Regions from separate parts of the Homo sapiens genome. Here all the other regions are linked to region 2. The links come from fine-mapping of genetic effects on gene expression. A gene starts in region 2. Each other region holds a variant in brackets. All regions are shown on one strand. Distances are from middle to middle. Region 1 holds the start of LOC105372449 (a long non-coding RNA gene). Region 2 holds the start of FPR3 (formyl peptide receptor 3). Region 3 overlaps SPACA6-AS1 (SPACA6 antisense RNA 1).

Evidence for each region. PIP is the estimated chance that this variant, and not a neighbour inherited with it, causes the effect.
Region 1: its variant is fine-mapped to the expression of FPR3 in nasal epithelium (TOPMed, PIP 0.96).
Region 3: its variant is fine-mapped to the expression of FPR3 in whole blood (INTERVAL, PIP 0.94).

Annotation. Positions count from the first base shown.
Region 1 is chr19:52,227,949-52,232,088 of GRCh38, reverse strand. It overlaps PPP2R1A (protein phosphatase 2 scaffold subunit Aalpha), which reads right to left. Exons shown (of 15, transcript NM_014225.6): 15 at 2,571-4,140. It overlaps LOC105372449 (a long non-coding RNA gene), which reads right to left and starts at 662. Exons shown (of 3, transcript XR_001753993.2): 1 at 575-662. The variant G/A (reference allele first, on the strand shown) is at 2,260.
Region 2 is chr19:51,793,058-51,797,226 of GRCh38, reverse strand. It overlaps FPR3 (formyl peptide receptor 3), which reads right to left and starts at 2,070. Exons shown (of 2, transcript NM_002030.5): 1 at 1,896-2,070.
Region 3 is chr19:51,686,560-51,690,728 of GRCh38, reverse strand. It overlaps SPACA6-AS1 (SPACA6 antisense RNA 1), which reads left to right. Exons shown (of 2, transcript NR_108100.1): 2 at 2,228-4,169. It also overlaps a transcript of SPACA6 not described here. Among named protein-coding and RNA genes, the nearest start is that of MIR99B, 4.0 kb to the left of the region's middle. RefSeq lists enhancers at 298-397, 1-741 and a silencer at 2,519-2,737. The variant C/TC (reference allele first, on the strand shown) is at 2,168.

The sequences.
Region 1 (4,140 bases), 430 kb before region 2:
GGTCAGAGTATACATAGATATCTAAGAGATGAGGCAGTACAGCTGATATTTGGGTTACATACAGAATAGCAGGGGAGTTATTAGTGTATATAAAGTATGATGAGAGAATGAAGGTGGGAAGTAAGGAGGCCCAAAAGATCAAGTGGGGTCAGCACAGGTGGTAGTGAACCCATGCCCAAAGAGTTAAATAAACCAGTAACTAACAAAGATTATGAATTTACAGAACAGCAGATAAGAAATAACTTTCTGAAATGCTCAAACTCCCTCTACAAAACTGGCCAAAATTGGTTGAAACCAATATGGCCAAATGGAGTTTGCACAGACCAAGCATGCTGATGTCACAGCCTGAATTTCCTCACCATGTTTCAAACTCCCACTAAATGTGCGCATGATGCATGAGGAGACATGAAGAGAACTGTGCATGCCTGAAGACTTTCCAGACCTCTCCTTTCCTTCTACCTATCACCTGAGAACCCCAGAATCCACCTCCTAAACGTTTTATAATTAAATTACTGCCTTAAAACCAGCACAGGGAGACAGATTTGAGCTTGACTCATCTTGTGAGTCAACTTACAATAAAAAACTTTTCTTTCTCAAAAACCTGGTGTCAAAATATTGGCTTCCAGTGCCTCAGGGAGAGAGCTCCTTTTGCTTGACAACAGTAGTATCAATTAGACCAGATGGTATAACAGGGACTGCAGGTTCATCTTTTCTTAGTGCCTTTCCCCACCCTTAAGAATCTTTTGGGACTGTTCCATTGCTGTGTGATGCAGGCACAGAACTCAAGAGTGAACATGCTGAGAATTCTCGATGCCAGGCTGCCCAAGGCCACAGTGAGCATCAGATAAGGGAGAACTATTCCTTTGTTCTGAAGACTTCATGACTCAGGGCTGAGCTCAATCTAAATGACATGCAGCATTATTTTCTACTTACTATGTAGTCTAGGGTTCCTCCTGTTTCTCTGCCACCTAGAGATCAATTCATTTTTATCAATATTTGGGAAAATCAGTGACATAAATCAGGTAAGAGGACCCTAGATCCAGCCTCCAGGATCCTGCCCTTTGCCTGTTGATCCTGCCCTTTGCCTTTGCACTTTTCTAAATAAATTACACTAGCACAGACACACTGACATGCAGACTCTTGGGAGATACCAGCACATAAGCACTTCAGAGCAGTTTGGGGATGACAGGTATCAGAGTGAGGGCTAGGCTGGGGCTTCTATCTGAAGTTCATAATCTATCTGTGTGTGTCGGCTAGCTCCTGGGAAAATCCCAGGGTATTTCTGTGGCCATGGGGGAGATTATTGAGACAGGGCAGGATCCCTGCAGAAGTGTCTCCCAGACACTTATTATTTCCCTTTTCATATGAAGATCTCTGGACCAAGCCTCCATGATAGGGCTGATCTGGAGACCACTGCGGATGCTGTGAAAGCCTCTGATCACATAGGAGAGTAAGCTCTGGCCTCAGAAAGCAGGATCCTATCCAAGAGAGCTCCATGCTCCTGGAGGTGAGATTCTGTATGCTCCTTCAGTAGAAGGCCACAGACTGAATAATCAATTGAGAATCGCATATCTTTTAGTTTCCCAAAAAAGAAAAATTTTTAAAGTATTTTTATCCATGTTAAGAGTAACAGCTACTCAGGAGGCTGAGGCAGGAGAATCGCTTCAACCCAGGAGGTGGAGGTTACAGTGAGTGGAGATTGCACCACTGCCCTCCAGCCTGGGCAACAGAGCGAGACTCCATCTCAAAAAGTAAACAAAAATGGCTGGGTGCGGTGGCTCACCCCTGTAATCCCAGCATTTTGGGAGGCTGAGGCGGGCGGATGATCTGAGGTCGGGAGTTTGAGACCAGCATGACCAACACGGAGAAACCCCGTCTCTACTAAAAATAGAAAATTAGGCGGGCGTGGTGGCGCATGCCTGTAATCCCAGCTACTTGTGAGGCTGAGGCAGGAGAATCGCTTGAACCTGGGAGGTGGAGTGCCAGTGCACTCCAGCCTGGGCAACAAGAGCAAAACTCCGTCTCAAAAAATAAAATAAAATAAAAGCTTAGTATCTGTACAAAATATACGAAAAAAGAGGAGTAACAGCAAAGGAACACAGACCTGAATTAACTCAACAGTATTCATGAATAATAAACATCTGCCATTTGCCTAGAGAGTGAGATTGGAGTTCTAGCCCCTCATTCTTATTTTCAGCATCAGGGAAGGCCCATTCTCCCTACTGCTCTAGAATATGCACAGGGTACAGGAACAGCAGG[G/A]TGGGGACTGAGCCTAAGCCCAAGCTAAGGGGTGGGTGGAAGCAGATTCCCGCTACTCAGCTTCTGTCAGGAAAGGCATGTGCTCTTGGGGACAGAGAGCAGTGATTCCCCATGAAGAGTTGGGGCCTCAGGTTTCCCTTCCCTCCTCCGAAGTCTGGGAAGGACCCAATCAGCCAACCCAAACTTCGAGCTACTAGTCTCTTACCCTTCCTGGAGGCCGACTGGGAAAAATCCAGCCCTACAAAGCCTGTAACCCCCCACCACCTTGCAGCTCTGTATGGCAAGACATCGAGAGAGCGGGGAAGGCCTGCTGGAGTCAAGGCCTGGCACTAAATCTTTATTGGATTTTCTCTTTTTGACAAGTTCCTGAATTATTATTTTTTTTCATATGGGGTCTTGCTCTGTCACCCTGGCTGGAGTGCAATGGCCCAATCTAGGCTCACTGCAACCTCTGCCTCCCAGGTTCAAGCAATCCTCCCGCCTCAGCCTCCTGAGTAGCTGGGATTACAGGCGCCCTCCACCACGCCCAGCTAATTTTTTCATATTTTTAGTAAAGACAGGGTTTCACTGAATTGGTCAGGATGGTCTCGAACTCCCGGCCTCAGGTGATCCGCCCACCTCGGCCTCCCAAAGCGCTGGGATTACAGGTGCGAGCCACTGTGCCCACACCAATTTTTTTAAATTTATGCCTCATGCCACCAGCTTGGGTAGATGAACCTGGCCTCCTTCCCTCCAGCCCTGATGGCCACAGGCAGAATCTTGTCGGTGCCCTGCAGTTCACTCCTCGGGGCTGAGGCACCACCTCGTCATCTTCATCTGCCCGGGGGAGCCATGGTAATTCTCCTCTAGCGACAACCACAGCTCAAGCACCATAGGCAGATTCTGCACCCTGAGTCAAGGGCATGGTGATTCTAGAGCTCTACTCGTGCCCCTATGCATTAGCCAAAGGCAACAAGTGACTCGACCTCATCCACATCCAGATGTCTGGGTCAATGCAGTGGAAGGAAGGGGTCAGTGAAGAGGCTGTTGGCAAAAACAGCCAAAGAAGTGCAGTCATCACAAAAGGAGACAAAATTTGTGTGTGGGCTCTGAAGAACAGTGCTGTGGAAGGAACCATTAGAGATGGCCAGTGTGACTGCTGGGATTTAGGCCTAGAGAGCGGGAGAAACAGGCCAGGGTCATGAGTCCTGGCTCCACACAGTCTCTCCACCCTGACCCAGCTCCAGCATCAAACTTCAGCTGCTACAGAGAAGGCCAGGTGTATGGAGCAAACAAAGCCTGCAGCCTGGGAGATTAGGAACCACTCCTAACAATGGACTTAATAACATCACATTCATCACCTGATTGGATTCTTCCAACATGAAGCTCACAGAAGGTGAGTTACCTCAGTCCGTTCTCCTGAGAGCACTCCCTCAGTAACACACTTGAACGAGTCTCCACTCGGGCTCTGCTTCTAGAGCACATGACCCAAGACACCAGGCAACTCCTGGTTAACTCAGGACTCTGCCAGCGTTCAATAACTCAAGCTATCCTTCACCCTCGTCTCTCATACTCACTCCTGTGGTCGCTGAGTATCACCTCATTACCCAGCACATCCTGGGTATCCATCGCACCTCCACCTCCTGTAATAATCCCATTCCATCACTTGCCCAATCTAGCAGCCTCAACATATCCCTGAGCCTTGTCTACATACACATGTCCAATTGTAGACCCCACCTCTGAGCCATAGCACATCCTCAGCCCTAGACCCACGTAGCATTAACCTCACTCTCAAGAGAGAAAAACTGGGTTAGTATTTAAGGCAGGACTTCTCTAACTTCAGTGTGCAGATGAACCTGGGCATCTTGTTAAAATGAAGGCTCTGCCTGAGCAGGTCGGGGC
Region 2 (4,169 bases):
CTCCACCTAATGCATTTTCCCAAGGATGCTTATGACCCCCAGGCTGCCAAATCCAGTGAGTCCTTCTCAGTTTTTAAGACCTGATATCCCAATGACACAGGACCCATTGGATCACTTTCTCCCTTTTCAAACACATTTTTCCTATGCCATGAGATATATCCAAGAGATATGTGCACACAATACACTCTTGGTCGTCTCTACAGCTCGATTCTCTTCCTCTTTTTAGTCCAATTTACGGTGTTTTCTATTCTAAATTTGACTCTAAATGTTGGGGTATCTCACATTCTATAAATGATATCATCCAGTCTCTGGGATTAAACCATTATGCTGTCTTTTCATCTAAATTATCAGCCGTGGCCTCTCCCTGGCACTCAAGTCTGATAAAACCTCTCCCCGTGGGAGTCCCATAGACTCCAAACCTCACATGGTTTTACCAAACTGTTGATGTTCTCTGCCTCCCAGACCTGCCACTCTTCCAATATTCTGTATCTATTTGGAGATTAAATATTCAGTTGTTAAAGCTCCAGATCTAGAACTCACCTTTCATTTCTCTTTTCCTCACCACCCAACGCCATCCACGTCTTACTCATTCTATCTACAGAACATGCTGAATGCACAGCCAGAGCCATTGCCATCTCCACGACCGGTGTCCATGGCCCTGTCAGGCTTGGATATTTGCACAAGCCTTGCAAATAGCTTTTTCCTGGTCCTGCTGCCCCCTCCCCTAAGATCCATTCTCCAGACAGAAACCAAATGAGCTTTAAAAAGGTCCAATAAGATGGTGATGTTATTCGCAATACCTTCCGATGGCTTCCAGACTTCTAAGTTACCCTTATCTTAGGTTCCCTTATCCTAGGTTCCCTTATCCACTGCCACATGTGCCCTGTGCATCCCTCAGACCTCATCTCTGCACTCTCATCAGACACACTGGGCTCCACCCACTGGGCTCTAATTCCTTGAACTTGCAGCTCTTTGTCATCTCAGGGCTTCTGCTTTCTCTATTCCTTCTGCCTACCGTGCTCTTCGTCTTGAGCTTCCTGCACCTGGCTCATCCTGAATATTCATATTTCAGGTCAAATATTATTTCAGAGAGATCCCACCTCACCCACTCTGCAAAGCAGAATGCTCAGGTACAGCCTATCTCACCAGATACTTTTCTCCTTTATTTGTTTGTTCATTTATCTTCTCTCTTAAATACCCTCCACACTAGTACGTAAGCTCCACAGGACTATCAAGATCCTTCAATGCTACATCTCTACAATGCTACATGTCCAGTAGAAATATAATGTGTTAACTTTAGCTACATATGGGACTCAAAATTTTTTTGTAGCCACTGTTTTTAAAAAAGTAAAACACCTTTGGGGAAATTATTTTAGTAATAAATTTTATTTAATTACATATATGATAAAGAATTGGCCAGTCACATTGGCTCACGCCTGTAATCCCAGCACTTTGGGAGGCCGAGGTGGGCAGATCACGAGGTCAGGAGTTGAAGACCAGCCTGGCCAACATATTGAAACCCCGTCTCTACTAAAAATACAAAAAATTAGCCAGGCGTGGTGGCAGGTGCCTGTAATCCCAGCTACTCAGGAGGCTGAGGCAGGAGAATCGCTTGAACCTGGGAGGCAGAGGTTGCAGTGGGCTGAGATTGTGCCACTGCACTCCAGCCTGGGTGACAGCGCAAGACTCCATCAAAAAAAAAAAAAAAAAAAAAAAAAAAAAGAATGTTACTGGAACATGTAACCAAATTAAACACTGTTAATGAAATAGTTAACATTGTTTTCATACTAACGAAGTGGATTCTTCACTGGACTACGCTACTCCAGAGTTAGAAGGGCTCTGTCATATAGCAGGCATTTCAACAATAACTTTAAAATTTTCAGACCCCAACTTACCACCAGCTTAGATCCTTTTCCTGTGCCCAGTTCCTGGATTCCTGTGGAGCAACTCAGGCTCTAAGTACTTGTAAAAAGATGAAGTTATATGTTTGGTTTTAAGATCTTAATTGGCTTTGGTTATAAAGATGGAATCAGACAGCCTGTCATGCTATAAAACAAAATGAGTGTTTTGATAGTTAGAGCCAAGGAAGTTGGTTTTACAGGGATAGGAGGGCTAAAGAAAGCAGAAACAGAGAACAAAAACCTGATTGGTCATCTGGATGTTGCATTTTTTTTGTGCAGCAGGAATAGAGAGACAGCAATAAGGAACAACTGATTGATTGAAGTCAAGTTACCACAGATTGCTTTTTTTTTTTTTTTGTAAAGATGAAAGCAGACAGAACTTCATGTTCATGCCCACTGAAACTGGCCTGTTTTAGGAATTTGTCCATTTTCTCTCTCTCCTGATTTCTCAAAAGTTCAGATACATTAGTTTTGGTTTGGTGATGTGGAGTTTTAGTATGACTGACTCCATTTGGTTTGCTTTGTCGAACCTAGTACAATAGGTCAGTCCAAACCACTTACTTGCTGTTTTTATAGAACAGGCTTCAGCAGAGACTTAGTTGAAGGACACGGGGACAATGGAGCTGGAATCAATCCAGTGACACAAACTCAGGGTTTCTTACCATTCCCAGAAGACACCTTGGAGATGTTCTCAGACGATTTATCTTGGAAACTTATGTGTCTGAATGTTCCTTCACCTCTAGCCTTCTGTGGGAGACTGGAGTTCATCCTTCCAAATATCAAAGGCCAAGAAATCTGAGAGTCCAGGCCCTTTCTTTTCAGAGATTCAGGAAAATGAAAGAAACAATTACCAAGGTGAGAAGAATGAGAGGAAAAACAATAAAAAAACAAAGATGCACGGTGAAACAAAAACTCGATTCTCTACTTTCACAATCCTTCTGACCAAATATACTTTTTCTCTACACCAAGAAATTCTCCAATTCTCTGGGGACACCACCTGGGCCACCTGCAATTAAAAATTCGGTTATGATGCTGTCTACCTGGATTCAGCTCAGATCCGAAAAGCTAAAGGGCTCACTCCCACAAACTGTTCTCAGATCAGATCAGACATCTGTTGCAAGTCCCAGGTGGCTACTTGTACTTCTGACTGACAGGCTATAAATTGGGTGTTCCAATGACACCAATAAATTGCTAGAATGGCACACAGAACTCAGGAAAGCACTTTGTTTGCATCTGTTGCTTTATATAAGGAATATACCTCAGGAATAGTCCATTGGAAAGAGGCATATGGCAGGTATATGGCAGGGAAGGGGTTGGGTGGTGCATGGAGCTTCCATGCTCTCTTCAGGCAGCCACTCTCCCAGCACTCCTGAGTGTTCACCAATGTGGAAGCTCATCAAATCTCATTGTTCAAGAGTTTTTATGGAACTCAATCTCCAGTCCCTGCCTCCCCTTCCTGGAGATCAGTAGGTGGGGCTGACAGCTCCAACCCTCTAATCCCTTGGTCTTTCTGGTGACCAGTCCCATCCTAAGGCCATGATCTCCTTAGCATAAACTCAGCTATGATCAAAAGGGGCTGTTTATGAATAACAAATAATACTCCTATCACTCAGGGAATTCCAAGGGTTTTAAGAGCCCTGTGCCAGAAATCTGTGACAAAATCAAATATGCTTTGAGGTATTTCATACCTCAGAGTTACAAAGAGAAGCAGTAACTAGGAGCATGTAGAGAGGTAAGGAAGGTAAATGAGAGACACTGTACACTCCACACCATTGCCGAGATTAACCCCCTAACCTTCTGCCCCTAGGGAGATGCTCTATGGACTACTGATCTAAGGAGATGGGCTCTTTCTGAGTTTTTAAACACCATCAGAATGTTGTTCTCAAGCCCAAGGAATAGAACCATGAAAAACAGTGGAGAGCCACAAAACAAGAGTCAACTATTTTCTATTTTCTCTCTGATTCACTGGATGTTTTCAGTGATAAGGTAGAGTAAACCAATGAAGCACATAAGCCATGGAGAAATTTATTATTAAAAAAAGTTTTGGAAGGGGATAGATCTGGAGTTTGAACAAAAATTGAGTTTAATGTCACCCTTCCACTCCATCATCATATTGGTTTTCTTCTAGGGCTTTCTTGAAAGTGACCACAGAATGGCTGCCACTGTTCTGGACATTGCATCAACAGGCCCTCCCGAGCCAGAATCATGAGACAGGCAGAAAATGTGACTCATTCACATGCCTCTTCCATTTTATTACAGAGGGAAACC
Region 3 (4,169 bases), 110 kb after region 2:
GGGTCAGGACTTGTTCAAGGTCACTGGACAAGGCGTTGGTGGAAACGCGAACTCCCTGGGCCCATAGCCCCGCTTTGGGGAAGGGGTAGGCTCTGGACTTCCCCCAGGCCTAGGTCCCCCTCCCCCTCTCTGCGGACCCTGGGGAGCCCCCAAGGGTCAGAGAGCAGACCCAAACAGTCTGGCACCATGGCAACTAGCTGGTCCCGCCCCCTTAACCCCTGGAGGGCTGGACTCCAGCTGGGGCTAAAGAGGAGGTGGGGACTCCTGGGTTCCGGAGGAGGAGGGGCCTGGGGATCCCCAGAACTGCAGGCTTCAAAGGGAGAAAGATGCCGGAGCCTGAACGCTTGGGTTCTAGAGGAACAGAGGGTTGGGGGCCGCGCTCCTTGGGAAGAGGGGCTGAGGTTCTGAACTCTGGGGTTTTGAAGGAGTTAGGGGCTGGAGTGTGGATTCCCTGGTCTGAGAGAACAGACTGGGGGCTCAGACTCCTGGATCCTGGAAAAAAGGGGGCTGGGGGCTCGGATTCTGGAATGGGTGGGGGACTGGGTGGTGTACTCCCAGATCTGAGGGAGGAGGGGTCTGGGACCTGGAATCCCGGGTCCCCGAGGGAGCATGGATGCTGGGCCTCTCCTCCTCCAGACATCTCCTGCCCCCGCCGCTGACCCTGGCCTGTCTGGCAGCCCAGACAACCTCCCCCTCCTCCTCGGCCCCCTCCCACTGGCACGGCTCACCCTTGACCCCTCAAAGCCCCGCAGCCCCATCCCTGCGCCTCCCCCTCCCCTCCAGCCAGACGTTAACCCTTCCGCTGCCGCAGGCACTCCAAAGCCAGTCTTCCTCCACCTCCCCCGAGGGCTCGGGCAGCTCGCCCCTAGTCTCTTCCAGCCACGATCCTACCAGCCCCAGCCCCCATCTCTGTCCTCCCTCTTGAATCCAGGAAGTGTCCCCAGCCTTCTCCAGATTCTGGACCCCGGGATCCAGGTCCCAGCCCCCTCCTTCAAGGATTCAGGAGTCTGGGCTCCCAGCCACCCCACCCTCCCCACCCCCAACTCCTCCTCCAAGAACCCTGAAATCCAGGCCCCCGGGTGCTCCTCCCTCAGGGACCCAGGAGTGCGGGCCCCAGCCCCCCACCCTCCCTTTCCGCAGACTCACGGCTCCCGCGGCTCCCGCGTCGCAGGGAAGGGGTCTTCTCCGCCGCCCCGGGCCCGCAGGCCGGGCCCCACCGCCGCCGAGCGCTCTCCATCCTCTCCCCGCCTTCGCCGCACGGCGGCCTCTCCCCTTCCTCCCGCCGTCCCCGCCATCCTCCTTCCCTTCTCCCCGACTCCCTCCGGCCGTCACCTCCTCCCCGGCTCTGCGGTCCGGGGCTCCCCCTCCCTGGACCCCGCCGGCTGCGCGGCCGTCGGACCAGCCCCCTCCCCAGGGGGCCCCCCGCCCCGGCCCCTCCCCACCGCCCAGCCCAGTCCGGCCTGGCTTCCCCCCTGCCCCGGAGCTGGCCCAGGTCCAGGGGAAAAAATTCCATCCAGCCCCGGGGAGGAGGAGGGAGCGGGAGGGGGAGGCCGGGCCAGAGAAGCCTGACGCAGAGGAGGGAAGGGACAAAAGAGGCCGGGAGGCGGCGGGGCCGGCGCTCCCGCTCGCCCGCCCTCCTCCTCGGCCAGTCTCGCTCCTCCCCGGCTTTCCCTAGCTCCCCTCCGCCTCTCCGCCCCGTCCTGTCCCTCGCTGGCCTCCCTCCCTCTTCTCTCCTGCGCCTCCTCCTCGCTCTGTGCGTGCTCTCTCGCTCTCTCTCTCCCTCTCTCCCTCCCTCCCTTCTCTCTCGTTCTCTCTCTCTCTCTCTCCCTCTTTCCCTCCTCCTCTCTGCTCCTGTCATTCTTGGTTGCTTTTGCTGCCTCTCTGTGTCTCTTTCCGTCTGTCCTCCCTTCTGTCTCTGCACATCTGTCCTTCCTTTCGCCCTCTCCCTATCTCCATCCTCTTTCTCTGCCTGTGGGGCATTATCTGTGTCTCCCATTTATTCTTCCCTTTTCTCTGTTTCTCTCCCTCCCTTCCTGTCTCTGTGTCTCTGTTCTTCCTCTCTCTCGCTTTCTCCTCCCCTCTCTCCCCGAACCAGTCAGGGTCTGCCCGTCTCTCTCTCCCCCTTCCTGCTCTCCCAGCTTCGCCCCCACCAGCTTTAGTATCTCCA[C/TC]CCCCCACCCCCACCCACTGGGGGCTCAAAGGTGAATCAGACCCGAATCTGCCCTTGCAGATGGAGCTCACAGTCTGATGGAAGAGACAGAGCCAGCCGCAGACAGTCCCAATCCCGGGTGATCTGGGTATGACACAGGGAGAGGCCAGAGGCTGTGAGAGCCCAGGGCGGGAGGAATCCTGGCAGCTGGAGACGGCAGAGAGGACCTCCAGAGAAGGCGTGGTTGTGGCATGACCTCCACTAAGGCCCTTCCAGGCAGAGGGCACAGCTGAAGCGAAGGCCCAAGGCAGGAAACCAAGGAGGTGCTGGGAGGACAACAAAGCCCTTAAGTCTGACTAGAGCCTCCGAAGCCAGGAGCCAAGGAGCACAGGAGATGAGGCTGGTGGGGCGAGCGGGCGGGGTCAGATTCTTAGGGAGTTTCAGGCCAGGCTGGGAACTTAGCCTTCTGAGGGTGACAGGGAGCCCTGGAAGGTTGTGAGCAAGGGGCGGGGACACGGTTATAGCTGAATGTCAGACCCCGCTGAGGCTGTGTGGAGTGGAGGGGGAGAGACGGGTGGAGGCTGGGGAGGAGGCCCCCTCCCTGCAGTTTGCGGGCTAGGACCTGGGGAGAGAGGAAGGGGTGGGGCAGGAATGTGAGGAGCTGGAGATGGCTGGAGACTGCTGGGCACTGGGGGCAGAGAACAGGAACCTGTGGGCGGGAAACAGGTAGGAAAACTACAACTCCCTGAGTCTGGCCCAGGAACGGATGGGGCAGGAGTTGCTTTCAATGGGGAACTAGGAGGAAGAAGAGGGTAGAGGAGAGAGATGCTGTGGGCATCTGAGAACTTAGTGGACATTAAGAGCCAGGGAAAACGTTCAGGATGCATGGTGCTGGGCTTTCAACAGTGCATCTCCCTCCCTCCCTATCCTCCAGCCACCCAGTTCTCCTCTCTGGGGACAGCATATATTCACTAATTTCTTATGTATCTTTCCAGAGGAATTTTATACATCTATGCACATATATACCACCCTCCTCTTTTCTGTCCCCTGATAGGATCACATTATTCTGCACCTTGGTTTTTTTTTTTTTTTTTACATGATATCCAAAGATCCTCCCATATCTAGGCTTATAGAACCTCCTCATTCATTTTAATAGTGATATAATATTCCATTGTATTCATCTATTTATTCCTAGTGTATTCAGTTAATTGGGAGATTGGGAGGTTTTTTATGTCAAGAAACTAATGGTTATGCATATTGATATTTACAGATTTGCTTATGTATGTATGTATGTATGTATGTATGTATGTATGTATGTATGTATTTATTTTTGAGACGGATTGCCCAGGCTGGAGTGCAGTGGCATTATCTCAGATCACTGCAACCTCTGCCTTCCAGGTTCAAGCCATTCTCCCACCTCAGCCTCCCACGTGGTTGGAACTACAGGCCTGCGCCACCAGGCCCGGCTAATTTTTGTGTATTCTGTAGAGATGGGGTTTTGCCACGTTTGCTGGACTGGTCTTGAACTTCTGACCTCAAGTGATCCTCCCACCTTGGCTGAGCCACCACACCTGGCCCAAATTTGCTGATTTTTAAAGTGATTTTGTCCAATGCTTTTAAGCCTCTAAACCCAGATATTCGATAAATGCTTACTTCTAGATCCTTTAAAATTTGTTGATAATTACTAACAATGGGATAATAATAATGACAACAGATACCCTTTATTGAATGACTACTTGGAGCCAGTTCCTGGGATGAGTATTTGTTATACATTATATCATTGATTACACAGAAACCTTATTATTAGAAACTATTATTATCCCAATTGTAAGGATGGAATACTGAATAGGATGCAGTTCTGAATAGCGAGTTGCCCAAGCTCACAAAGTATGTGATGGAGCTAGAGATTCAAACCCAGGCCTCTCTGGCTCCTTCTTTGGGGTGGGCTTGCTCTGGGAAAATATGCTATTTCTAAGGATTGACACTGGGTACATTTAAACTTGTCATGCACACAAATTCATGT